Regions from separate parts of the Homo sapiens genome. Here region 2 is linked to region 1. The links come from fine-mapping of genetic effects on gene expression. Tissue or cell type: visceral fat. Region 1 holds a variant in brackets; the other region holds the start of a gene. All regions are shown on one strand. Distances are from middle to middle.

What was found. PIP is the estimated chance that this variant, and not a neighbour inherited with it, causes the effect.
Region 2: it holds the start of SLC29A3, and the variant in region 1 is fine-mapped to the expression of SLC29A3 in visceral fat (GTEx, PIP 0.98).

Annotation. Positions count from the first base shown.
Region 1 is chr10:70,909,671-70,917,522 of GRCh38, reverse strand. No RefSeq gene overlaps it. Among named protein-coding and RNA genes, the nearest start is that of PCBD1, 25 kb to the right of the region's middle. The variant A/G (reference allele first, on the strand shown) is at 3,201.
Region 2 is chr10:71,317,290-71,322,497 of GRCh38, reverse strand. SLC29A3 (solute carrier family 29 member 3) reads right to left here and starts at 3,239. Exons shown (of 6, transcript NM_018344.6): 1 at 3,188-3,239. The coding sequence starts at 3,188. It overlaps LOC124902445 (a long non-coding RNA gene), which reads left to right and starts at 2,835. Exons shown (of 2, transcript XR_007062183.1): 1 at 2,835-2,936; 2 at 3,594-4,529. RefSeq lists a silencer at 2,993-3,442.

The DNA.
Region 1 (7,852 bases):
GGCCTCCATGGGTCTTTAATGCTAGCCAGCCAGGTGCCCTGTGGATGCTCCTCAGGCTGAGGAGGGGGGCACTGTTTACAGCCCCTGCTTAATTAAATCAATAAACCACCAATGCAAATCTGTCAGAGGGCCAGCTCTTTACAATGCACCATGCGGAGGGGAGGCTGGATTAACAGCTGCTGCAAGAGGACAAGAGGAGGGGAGACGGAGAGACTGAGGAGGAAGAGGAGGGAGAGGAGGAGGGCCAATCTGGGAGCGGGGCTCAGAAGAAGTTGAGTGTCCAGGCCCCCAGACTCCCTCTCTGGACTACATCACAACCCATCCCTGCAACACCTAGAAGCGTACCATTTCCTCTTTCAGGGGCTCCTTTCCCCCTCCTGCCAACATGGCTGCAGGAAAGGCTCTGCTATCAGTCATTTACACTACAGTGAGAACTTGAGGCTAGGTGAGACTGCAGAGATTCAGTGCCATGCTGGCCCAGGGAAGGCTACTGGAGCATCCAGCCAGGTCTCCTTTCCAGTGTTTTCGGGCCTGAGCAGGATGGAGCTCCAGCAAGGACCCAGATACACGGCCACAGCTCTCCCTCTGTTCTGCATTCTGGGAAGACTGGGGGAGAACTGGTTGTCAGGAAGCCTGTCCATTAAGGGAAGCTGTGTGGTCTGGGACCAGCCCCTGACCTTCTCTGGGACTCATTTTCTCCGTCTGGATCACCAGGGGCTCAGAATCTGCAACCTGTAAGTGACTTTCTAGCTCAGACACTCTCTGCATTGGGCTCCCCTAAGGGGAGAAGCATCTCCTTGATAAGCCTGGGGCCCAACCTGAGCCAGGGTCATGGCCAGCCCATGTTTGGGGCCAGAGTCACTACAGCCACTGGCAACCTGCTGGATGGGACCTGGGGTCCAGCCATGAACCCCTTGCTCCCTCCATGTTCCCATCTGTAAAATGGGAATAATGAAAGGCATGGATACCCCACATGGGAGTAAAGTGCACTAATGAATGCTCTCAGAGCCTCGGATGAAAAAAGGAGGAGCCTCTGCAGGGCCGGGGGCATGGGGAGGCAGCATCGGGACCCCTGCTCCACCTGGACTGCCAGACACCCTTCAGGCATGGAAGCTACACTTTGACCGCCAGTCTCTCATAGAGCCTTCCCAGTACTCCCTCTGGGGCCGTGAGAAAATGCCTTCCCCTTCCGAGCCCCAGGTCCCTTCCCTGTAAATGGCTCTGAAACTCTATGACTCAGTTTCCCCATGGAAAGTGACAGCATCTTATGCTCTGCCCCTCCATCTGACTCAGGTCTACGGAGCCTTATGTGTGCCCAGCGTGATGAGGGGCACAGAGGAAGCATGAGGCTGGGCGCCTGCCGTCAGGGGACTACGTATCCCCTGAGCAGACAGGGGGTAAAGAGATGAGAGAAGTTTTGCGTGCACAAAGGGTATGAACAATGGCCACATGGCCCAGAAGCCTCAGCAAGGAAAGTAAACATAAGCCACCCCAGCCTCCCTCTCCCTGACCCGGATAGACATCGCCCATCCATGCTACTCTTTCCGGCTGAGCCTGAATGCGGCCTCTGTCAGGTGCTCCAGGCAGCAACCAGCCTGATCACCAAAGTTAGCAAGCAAAAGCTGCTCACCTGCTCTCAGAGGTCTAAGGGTTATGCTAGGACAACCACAGGAGGCTTCCTGGAGGGAGAAGTCTTCACCTAGGCCTTGAAAGAAGAATCCAGATAGAGGGGAAAGAAGAATGTGTTCCAGGTGGCAGGAGCAGTGTGCATACATCTGGGGGATAAATTGGCACAGCACACTCAGGGACAGTGGGATCTGCTGAGATCCCACTGAGAGATGGTCAAGAGAGTAGGAGGCAGAGTGGGAGGTCGGGGGGTACCAAAACTCAGATGCCAGTTCCACTGGGGCGGTAGGTGCCTCTCCCCAATCCAGTTGATGGGACCTGTCAGCCTTCACCTTCTGCACCCACTCACCAGGCTGGGGAGGTCCTGGAGGGGTCTGGGGGTGAGTGAGGTGGTGCTGGCCATGGCTGTCCACCTCCTATGTGACAAGGAAATCGGCAACTTTGTTAAAATGACATGTTGCCGTCCGTTCTCAGAGTTGCAGGGTGGGTGCCCAGGATGCACAAACCATGTCCACTAGCCCAGCTCCCTGGGTGATTTACGGTGGTGGCCAGCCCAGTCTAGCCACTGACCCAGGGGCAGCCCACAGGGAGAGGTGTCCTCCAGTACTCACACCAGAGACCAAATGCAGAGCAGCCAGCTTAGACGCCAGCCCTTGCCAGGGGTTTCTGGAGCCTTAGGGTGCAGGAGATAGACAGGCCAAGGGCAGGTGGACCACCCAGCCCCTCTCCCTTCCCAACTGACTTCTGGGCAGAAGTTGGGGCCCCTCTCTGTAAGACCTGCAAATTACACCCACCCCTCCCATCTCTCCCCACTCACACTTTCCTTCAGAACCTATCTTAGCTTTCACTTCTGTCAGGGAGCCCACCAGGATTTACCCCTAAGACTCAACCAACTGCGAAAAGTGGCAGGAGACTTGTTCGTAATTCAGACCCAATGCTCATATGATGTGGGACTCGGGCAAGCCACCCCTCTACCCAGGCCTTGGTCTCCCCACCTGTCACTGAGGGAGTCAGACAAGCGGGTGTCTAAAGAACGTTTCCACTATTTCCGGATGGAAGAGTCTGGTTGCCTGGCTGGTCTAGGGCCACTGGGTCATCTAGAATCCATCACCCGGTCCTGTGGCAATCAGTGCGTGGCCCGGGTGCTGACCAGCAACCTGAGGCGGGTGAAAGGCCCAGAACCTCAGACACCACTGCCAGAGGAGCCTTCAATGACCATCACTCTCCCAAACCTCATCTTTCCCAGGTAGGCAATGGAGGCCCAGAGAGGGTGAGGACTTGTCCAAGGCCACACAGCAGCCACCCACAGCTGGGACTCACACCTTAGTCAGTGCTTGCTTGGTGATGTGGCTCACGGGTGCAAAGGCTCTTCTTGCTGTTCTATCTCTACCCCTCACTGGGAGCCCCCTCTGGAGGGACTTCACTGTGTCCTGATTGGGAAGGACACAGAAGAAACAGAAGAAATGGTCCCCGCCTGCCAAGAGCCTGCTGTAGAGGTGGGAGGAGGGATTCTGGTGGCAACGGGAGCCAGAGAGAGCAGCCCTCCCCGCTAACTTCCCACCCCACTGCCTGCC[A/G]TTGCCCCAGAGAGAAGTGATGCTTTAGGTTAAAATTGCCCCTTTAGGGGAAACTACAAAGTTATTTCCTGGCATTTCAGTATAAATGAATCTATCAAAAGTCCTTTTCTGAGACTGAAGGGGCTTGAAGTCAACTAAGGGACCCAAAGAGAAATGACCCTGCTTCCTCTGGGGGAGCAAAGTTCTCCCCACAGGCAGCGCTGTGGTCTCATGCTGGCTTACAGCTTATACCTGCATGCACACACACACCCCACAGCCAAGGCCAGAGTGGCAGCACCAACCTAGTGAAGACCTTCCCACTCTCACAGCAGGCTTTCTTAGGGGATGCGGGAGCCACCTGGCCCTAGAGGCACTCAAGCTAAGGCAGTGGAATGAGGCAGAGTGGACTTGTCCACCCCAGAGAGACTAAAAAACTTGACCATTCGCCCTCCTCCTCCTCCATTCACCTCAAGCCCTGCTGGCCTGAAATACAAGTCCACAGATGTCCCTTCCCTGCCCTGCTTTCAGCCCCTCCACTGGGGCACTGGCATTTGGAGGTGTTCTCTGAACGGCTCATCACCAAGCTCCAGGATTTCCAGAGCCCCCATGGATCAGGCCACAGCCAACTCTGCTGCTGGCCCTGGGCTGCAGGACTCCAGGGAAGCACTCACAGGGGTCACGAGTGGACATGGCCTTTGACCAGGAAAAAGACAGCCTGAAAGGTCCTCACCCAAAAGGAAGTCCCCCCACCTGCCCTGTGGAGAGGTGCTCAGGCAGCGCACAGGGGACCTGGCCTGCAAACTGTACCCCCAGAATCTCCCTCTCTCTCTCTCCCTCTCTCTCTCTCTCTGTCTCCCTCTCTCTCTCCATTTCCTGAGCTTGCACACTTCCTCTCCTGGCTCTCTGCCTCTCTAACTGTCTGGATTTCTCTCCATCTTTTTGTTTATTTGATTCATTCTCTGCCAGTCGCTTGGTGTCTCTCCCTCCGGGTCTGTCTGTATCTCTGACCTCCTCTCTTTCCGCCTCTACTCCTCTTTCTCTCTCTCTGTCTCTTCTTTCCCTCATTCACCCCCACCCCCACTCCACCACCTCCCATCTCCTCTCTCTCTCCCCACAACTCCCAGCCCTGCAGAGTTTCTCACTCTGGAAGCCAGTGCTGAATCGGTATTTCTGAGCTCCACTGCGAGCTGACAGGAATTCACTGTCTCCCCAGCAGACCCCTCCCAGAAAGCCTCCTCCACTATTTCCCCACAGTTCCACTTCTGGATTTGAAACATCTCCTGGGTGCTCAGCCCTGAGCCAGACCCTAAGGCAGGGAGGGAAGGGGAGGCAGCTTAGATGGTTGGGAAGAGCCGCTGGGCCAGGTACCATCCCGAGCACTTTCCATACATTAGCCGGGTCTTCCTCACATATCCAAGATGGGTTTCAACTTCCCCATTTTACATGCAAAGAAACTGATTCACAAAGATGTGAGGAGGCCACCCCAGCCACACTGCGGCTCAAACCCAGGTCTGTCTAACTCAAAAGCCCATGCACTTTCTTACCTCCACCTCATGGGCTGAGAAAGCCAGCCACCTGGGCCAGGTGCAGCCAGGATTCAAACCTCCAGCCCTCAAGGTGCATTCAGGCTGGTTCTGAGGCAGGAGATGCTCGTGAAGCAAAGACCACGGTGGGGACTATGCTACACTAAGGGCCAAGCAAGAAGCCCAGGCCCAGGGCAGGCTATTTAGGCTGGGGTCATGGAAACCTTCGAAGAGATATGGTTTGGCTGTGTCCCCACCCAAATCTCATCTTGAATTGTAGCTCCCATAATCCCCATGTGTGGTGGGAGGGACCCGGTGGGAGGTAATTAAATCATGGGGGCAGTTTCCCCCATGCTATTCTCGTGATAGCGAGTGAGTTCTCACGAGATCTGATGGTTTTATAAGGGGCTTCCTCCTTCACTCAGCTCTCATTCTGCTTGCTGTCGCCATGTGAAGAAGGGCATGTTTGCTTCCTTTTCCGTCATGATTGTAAGTTTCCTGAGGCCTCCCCAGCCATGCTGAACTGTGAGTCAATTAAACCTCTTTCCTTTATAAATTACCCCGTCTCAGGTATGTGTTTATTAACAGCGTGACAACAGACTAATACATGGGTCAAGAGGAGAAGGTCCCCCAGGAGGGCAAGGGAGTGAGTGAAAGCCTGAGGTGGGCCTAGGAGAACCAGGAGAGGCAGTTGAGCCAGGCTGAGGAGGCCCCAGCAATGTCAGTGGAGGGGTTTGGTCTGCAGGCTGGGGAGGCAGATGCTGAGACCCATTGCCCTCCCCTCAGAGGTCTGGGCTGCATATGGATGGCCCTTGGAGGCAGTGACCTCTGATTTGATTTGAGGTCACAGGAAATCACCCAGCCAGGTGAGAAGAGACCAGGAAGGACCATCATACAACCATGGTCCTGACTAGCTTGCTTCAGACCTACTGTGTGACTTCAGACAAGTTACTTACCCTCTCTGTACCTCTCTGTAGATTTAAGTGGTGGAGCCTGATAGAGTCTGAAGGCCCTCCTGCCCTGACATCCTTTCAATCCCACAAAGGGCCAGGAGGCTCTGGGAGAAGATGATCCAGATAAACCGAGATGGAGCTTTGGCCAGCAGGGATCTCAGGCAGGGGCCTAGACGAGCACACATTTGCCAACGGGGAGACCAAGGGCTGTGAGTGAAGCTGAGTCAGGCCCAAGGCTGTGTGGGAACTGAAGCCTTCCAAGCACTGCCCCCAAAAGCTCCTTCAAAGGCTGGACTTGGGGGTGCTGCCATGGGGGGGGTTCCACCTGTCTCCAGGCAGCATCTCCTGCCAGACATACCTGCCAGGGCTATGGGTGGTGCTGGGGCCCCTTGGCTCTCGGCAGGACTGTTCCTTCCTCAGGCTTAGTCATCTGGGGGTCCTCCAAGAAATATCTCTGAAGGATAAAGGGGGTACAGAGCAGGAATAGGCAGGAGAGCCTTCGGACCCTGGCATCCAGCTGTCACAGCTGCAAGGATGGGGGCAGAAAGGGAATTGGAAGAGCCTCAGCCAGCACCGCTCTAGGGATGCCTCAGCCAGGTGAGGCAGAGACCCAGGCAAAGACTCCCCCCGGAGGAGTCCCACATCTGCAAATGACCTCGCTGGCTCAGCCTCCAGCAGGGGCAGTCCGGGGAGAGGAAGTGTTGGGAGTGAGTACCACAGCGGCGCCTGCAGGTGCGGCAGCTGGGATGGTCAGTCACGTCCCTTGGGGTAGCTTCTCCTGAAGGGAGGCCTGAGAGGTGTCCTTCTGCGGCAGCCACTCTGACCTCTTGGGGCCAGAGTCCTTCCAGGTTGAACAGGTCTACCCCACATGCTGTGGGAGCACACCCAGGAATGTGAGCCTCCTCCAACACACTTAGCCCCGCTGAGGCAGCCCTGGCACAGCTCAGCAGCCTCATCTCCTCTCCAGGGACAGGCCCCAAGGCAGTGTTGCTGAAGGGCTGGGTGGCCTGGCCTTGAAGAGGACATGGGGTTCCCGGACCTGCCCCTAGCCTCAGGCACACCATCCTGCAGACCCCAGAAGGAGCCCCGAGACTCACCGCAGTGGACCGCAAGCAGTAGCCCACTCAGGGTCTCTGGTCAGCCCAGATCTCCCCAGCCTCAGCCTCCTGCGCCACATCTGCTGATGGCTCCCTCCTTAGGGAGTGGCACTGTCTGGATGTTGGGTCCCTCTAAATCTCACTGGAAATTTGATTCCCAGTGTGGGAAGTGGGGTCTGGTGGGAAGTGCTTGGATCATGGAGGCAGACCCCTCATGAATGGCTTAGTGCCATCCCCTTGGTGATGAGCGAGCTCTTGCTCAGTGAGTTCACCTGAGCCTGGTTGTTTAAGAGTCTGGGACCTCCCCTCTCTCTCGCTCCTGCTCTCACCCTATGATGCGCCTACTCCCCCTTTGCCTGCCATCATGACTGGAAGCTTCCTGAGGCCTCACCAGGAGCAGATGCCTGCACCATGCATCCTGTACAGCCTGCAGAACCGTGAGCCAATTAAACCTCTTTTCTTTATAAATTATCTAGTCTCAGGCATTTCTTTATAGAAAACAAAACGGCCTAACACAGGTAACACCCACCTGAGGTGAGGGGTAGCAGCAGGAGCACAGAGTCCCCCTGTCCCCACCCAGCTCTGGATGTTCTCCGCCCATAAGTCATCAAAGAGGGAGTGGGGGTGGAGGGATTGAGACTGTCTGGAGGTGGGTGGACAGAGGTGTTTAGCTGAACAACGGCCGCAGACATTCAGCTGTTCCTGACATAGCCCTCACCCATCAGCAAGAACATCTGCTGAGGTGGCTGGAGCCATCCCAGAATGGAAGGGATGGAAGGAGGCGAGAACCTGTGACTGAGGCCTTCAGTGTACACTGGGGGCATGTTGTCCTGGAAGCCAGCGGCCAACTCCACGTGTGCTCAGGACCCTTGGGTGGTTCCCAAGCTGCCGTCCATGCCTCATTTCACTTAACAACATTTGTTAAGTGCCTGGCCTGAGCCAGGGACTGATTGGAGCTCAGGGGATGTGACGGTGAAAGCCCAGATGTGGCCTCGGCCCTGCAGCAGATGCATTCTCAGCAAGGCCCACCTGCCTGTGCCATGGGCTCTCATGGAGGGTACCCAGCAGGGTGGGCCTGGCTGAGAAGCGATGGGGTAGTG
Region 2 (5,208 bases), 410 kb before region 1:
AGTAGCACATAACTGTGGAACAGGCTGGGTTTTGTAAAACACTGCATGATAGTGGGGACTGTGGCAATGTACCCAGAAAGGCAAACCTGGTCTAAGGGCATTCACAGTTCTGTGCAGCCATAAAAAAGAATTAGGACCCTTAATGGGCAAAGAATGATCTCTAAACCCTTTTCGATTTCAGGTGAAAGAAATAAGGAGCAGGATGGTGTGTAGAATATGCTACTATGTGTGTAAAAAAAGTGGGGAGAGAAAATATACATACACATATGTATTTGTATATGCACAGAATATCTCTGGAAGGCTACATAAGAAGTTTCTAACAGTGGCTGTCTCTAAGGAGGGAAACTGGGATGGTGGGGGGCGGGGAGGGGGACTTCCCTGCATTCTTATTTGTGTCTCTTGAATTTTGAACTATGTGACTAGTTTATTACCGGTTCAAAAACAAAATTAAAAGTGTAAATTTAAAAAAATTCAAATTAAGTAATAATTGTTTAAAAAACTGGTAGTGTCCAGGGCTGCCTCCAGAAGCTGGTGTGTAGCCTCTGACAGTCCATTCCCATTTCATTTGTGAGGAAAGAGAGGTCCAAAGAACTGAAGGCCATAGGCCACGTAAATGGCCAAGCCTGGGTTTGCAGCTCCTGCCTGGGTCCCACCTCTGCTCATCACACCCTACAAGGAGCCAGCCACTTTCAATCTATGGTAGCGCCTAAGATAAATGGAAGAGCCTAGGCTGCCAGCAACTATTGCCTACATGGCCTTGGGCAAGTTACCACATTTCTGTGCCTCAATTTCCCCAAATGTAAACCCAGAGAAGCTGTTTTTATGATAGTTATGCAACTGCAACTGGCTGGCAATGCCTGGCCTATAAGCAGCTGTTGAACAAATGTCAGCATCTCCCTGGCATCCTGGGCCTGTCGCATGGCTGGCTGGCTGGCTGCTGAATTTGGCTGTAAGGTAGCATGCCTGCTTCTTTGCTCTACATAGCACCTAGGATGTGGCAGCAGCTTGATAAATGAGAAATGTCTCCAAAATGCTGAGGATGGGACACTTCAGAGTCCCTTCTGCAGTAGCCTCTTCCCCACCCAATAAACTAATAAATAAATGCATCTTGGTTTCTATAGGAGGCTAAGCCTAACTCAAAGCATCGTACCAAGAAGACTGGGGCCTTTATTCCCTGGTGGGATGGGAACACCTCCTCACATGGGTGCAGAACCTTATCCACTATTTCAGGAGAACCTCAGAGCATCCCTTGGAATTAGGCAGGGCAGAAAACATTGCCCCCTTTTTTCAGATGGAAAAACTGAGGTCTGGAAGGCACTTGCTATGTCCCACAAATAGAAAGAACTCCCAATAGCTAAACTTAAGTCCAGTGATCACAAATGCCAAGGTCTGTGCCTAACAGAGGTCACACTTGAGGCTGACAACAGCCTAATATATTAGGTACTACTCTAAGACCCATTTCACAGAGGGGTCTGAGGCTCAGAAAGGTTGAGTAACTTGCCCAGGGTCACATAACTAGTAGATGACAAGAGTGAAGTTACACAGCCAAGCAGACTGGGGCCCATGCTGGACTCCTCAGCACACCGGGGAGGACTGGCTGGGAATGGGAATCTGTGTCTGCTGGTTCCAAGTACAGGCATCCTTCCTGCAAGCCTTGAAGCCAGTGAGTCGGGAGGGGCCCAGGCACACTGCAGGCACCCTTGTCAATGTTTGCTGAATGAACGGACTCTGCACGACCAGGACATTCTCCCCTGCTGGGGTAGCATGTACCCTGGAGCCAGCAGGTGGGGGGCCACTGGATGCCCAAGTGCAATGCATCCAGCCAGCAAGTCTATTTTAAACTCCCCTGGTTAGCAGAGCCCCTCCCCAGCCTGGATTCGCATGGAGGCCAGCATTAACAAGCTCACTGTCTGGAAGCTCACTGTGTGGAAAATCGCTTTTTCCACATGCACCCACTCATAGAGGAAAAGCCATGTGAAGGCACAGCAAGAAGGAGGCTGTCTGCAAGCCAGGAAGAGAGCCCTCATCAGAAACCAAATCAACCAGCACCTTGATCTTGCCCTTCCCAGCCTCCAGATCCATGAGAAACAAATTTTGTTTAAGCCACCCAGTCTATGCTATTTTGTCTGGCACAAAATGGTACAAATGTAACAAGCTCACTTGTTACATTTTAAAAATTAGTGTTTAAAATGTAAAAAATAATCATGACCCACCCACATAGAACAAGAGAGAACCGGCAAGTGGTTCTTTCCAGAGGCTCCAGCTACCTGTGGGGGCGGCTAGAAGGTCCACCAGCCCTGTCACTCAGGACCACACCTGGCTAGGGCCCCCTTCTCAGTTCCTAGCGTCTATTTGTCAAGGCTTGACTGAGCTTCTGAAGAAGGAGCCAGGAATTTTCTCTAACCAGGGTCACAGGCCAGGGCACTGGAGTGAGCAAAGTCTTATTAGTCTTTATAAAAGCTAGCTGCTGGCTTCTGGATTAAAAAATAAAGAGAAAGGCAGGCAAGGAAGTGCCCAACCTTCCCCAAAACAAGCTGGCTGTGGCCTGGAACGTGCTCCTGGGTCACCTGCGGGAGCCCGGCCATGCACAGACAGACAGCCCCACACAAGGAGGCAGGCACTGCTGGGGCCGCGGCAAAACCTCATCTGGGCTGGGAAGCCTGGGTGCTGGTTCCAAGGAGGTTCCTGACTCTGGCTAGGTGGCTCGCCCCTCTGTGCCTCGATCTCCTGGGCTGTGAACCGGGGTGGGGAGCTGGTAGGGCTAACCTGTGGGAAGGCACTGGGAAGCGCAGGGCACCGCCTACTGGCCGCGGCAGAACCGGCTTTGCGGTGTAAACAGCCCCAGCCTCAGGCCCCGCAGCTGGGACCGAGAGAATCAGCCACCGTCTGGATACTTCGGGCCGACGGGTCCATACCAGGCCCCCACCATACAGGCGGTGAGGTCCAGTCTCAGGGAGGAGGAGGGGAGAGGATTTGGGGAAGAGAAGATAGAGACCCAGAAAGAGGGGTGGCAGAGAGCAAGGAGAGAGAGGAGGGACGGTGGGGAAGGGACCACGGATGGGGTAGGGTCCTGCGGCTCCCCTGGCAGCCCGCAGCCGCCCCCAGGGCCCGGGAGGGAGGTCGCTGAGCGCGAGTCTGGGGGCGGCCGGGACCGTAGCCGGAAGAGCCCGAGCCGGCCCGCACTTACTGTCGCCGCTGCGCCACGCCGCCGCTGCCTCCGGCGCACGGCCAGGACCACTGGGCTTGGCAGGCGGCAGGCGGGCTCCTCCCCCGGCCCCGCCCCGCCCCTCGCGGCAGCACGCCGCCGCTTCCCCGTTTGCAAACACGCTTTTTTCCTTTGTCTTCTGCCGGCGCGCCGGGGCTCCCCCTTCTGGCGCTGAGCTGGGGCCTGCGTGCGCCCATTTTATAGGAGAAAAAGTGAGTCACCCAGTCTTAAACGCACTGCCCATGCTTGCGATGGGTGCGCTGCGCATCAGGCCTTTTGGTTGCTGCTCCTTCTTTACCTTGGAGCCAGACCCCACTGTCTCAGACCTCCCCTTTAGCTACTATAACCTGCACCCCAGGACTCAAAGGAGCCCTCATCTTGTCCCCAGGCCGCTGCAGAGACCCCTCTCCAAAGGCCGCTTCTACCCTTACCGGCTGCCGCTGCTCTGGAGGTGAAGCGGGACCCACACCCGGACTGAACTGGGCCTCCCAGGCCAGGCAGCTATTTTCAGTAGACCCAGAACATGGCAGTCAGCAATTCCAGCCCTCACACTTGACCTCAGCCATAGCGTGTAACACACAGCTGCCGCGTGTTCTTTAAGAAAGCAGGGGCCGGGCGCGGTGGCTCACGCCTGTAATCCCAGCACTTTGGGAGGCCGAAGCAGGCGGATCACCTGAGGTCGGGAGTTTGAGACCAGCCTGGCCAACATGGCGAAACCTCGTCTCTACTGAAAATACAAAAGTAGCCGGGCATGGTGGTGCGTGCCAGTGATCCCAGCTATGTGGGAGGCTGAGGCAGGAGAATCGCTTGAACCCGGGAGGCGGAGATTTCAGTGAACCGAGATGGTGCCACTGCACTCCAGCCTGGAGCCTGGGCGACAGAGCAAGACTCCATCTCAAAAAAAAAAAAAAAAAAAAAAAGGCGGAAACCTTCCTGACTCCCGGTCCTGGCCCAGTTGGCCTATTCAGAGCGGGGATCTGGATGCTTCACAGGGCCTGAAGATCTGTGACCATGGATAGTAAATTCTTGCAGTTGCCATCCCAGGGCTCAGGGGTGCCACAGAACCCATTGAGGCTGTCAGTGTGTGGACAGGTTCTCAGAACATCCCCACTCCCTGCCCCAGCCTCTCATTTTATAACCACCATTCCCCAAACACTGGCCTGATCATAAAAGTCTCGAGTACACATCCAGATTCTGGGGACCTCTCCCCAGGAGGGTTGCTGCCACTCCCCAATCCCTGAGGGTGGTGCTGTATCTGCTTTGTTTGCTCTTCCCTCATCGTGGGCACATAATTTGTGTTCAATAAATACCTGGATTAATACAACCCATCACTCAGGGGGTGCAGAATGGGGATCCAGAATGGATCTATTTAACAAGCTCCACCAGCAGGCGAGTTTGGAGACTAGCACCCTAAATTGTCAGAAAGCCCCCCGGCCCAGGAGAGGAAGGGGCTTAGCTCCAGGCTTACAAGCTGAGGGATAATGGTAAAATTACTAAACCTCTCTGAAACCCAGGGTCGGCTTAGGACTGTCGGGAGAATTAAGTCAGGTGATCCATGCCAGGCACTCAATGCAAATTTCCATCACTTCCAAGGAAGACACTCCCCACCCCCAAAATGTGATAGTGTATATGTTAGTTTAGTCATCAGGCCTTATTTTTAGCCTCTTTACGTTGGAAAAAAATCCTCTAATATACAGAGCATTTTCATGAACAGTCTCCCATTTGATTCCACCCCCCCACCCCAGTACCCAGTGAAATGGGACTGTTGTCCCCATTTTACAGATGAGGAAAGCCAGGCTCAAAGAGGTCAAGTGGCTTCCCAGGGCACACAGCTGGCAGTGATGGAGTGGCAGAACCCAGAGCCAAGGCTCTTTTTGTCATGCCCGGTTACAGGCAGGCAGGTGAGGCTGAGGGGAGCTGGGACAGCACGAGGGACAAAGCCGTAGGATTCAGTGAGGGCAGCAGATCAGGGCTATTTCTGGTCCAGCCCCAAGACCATGACC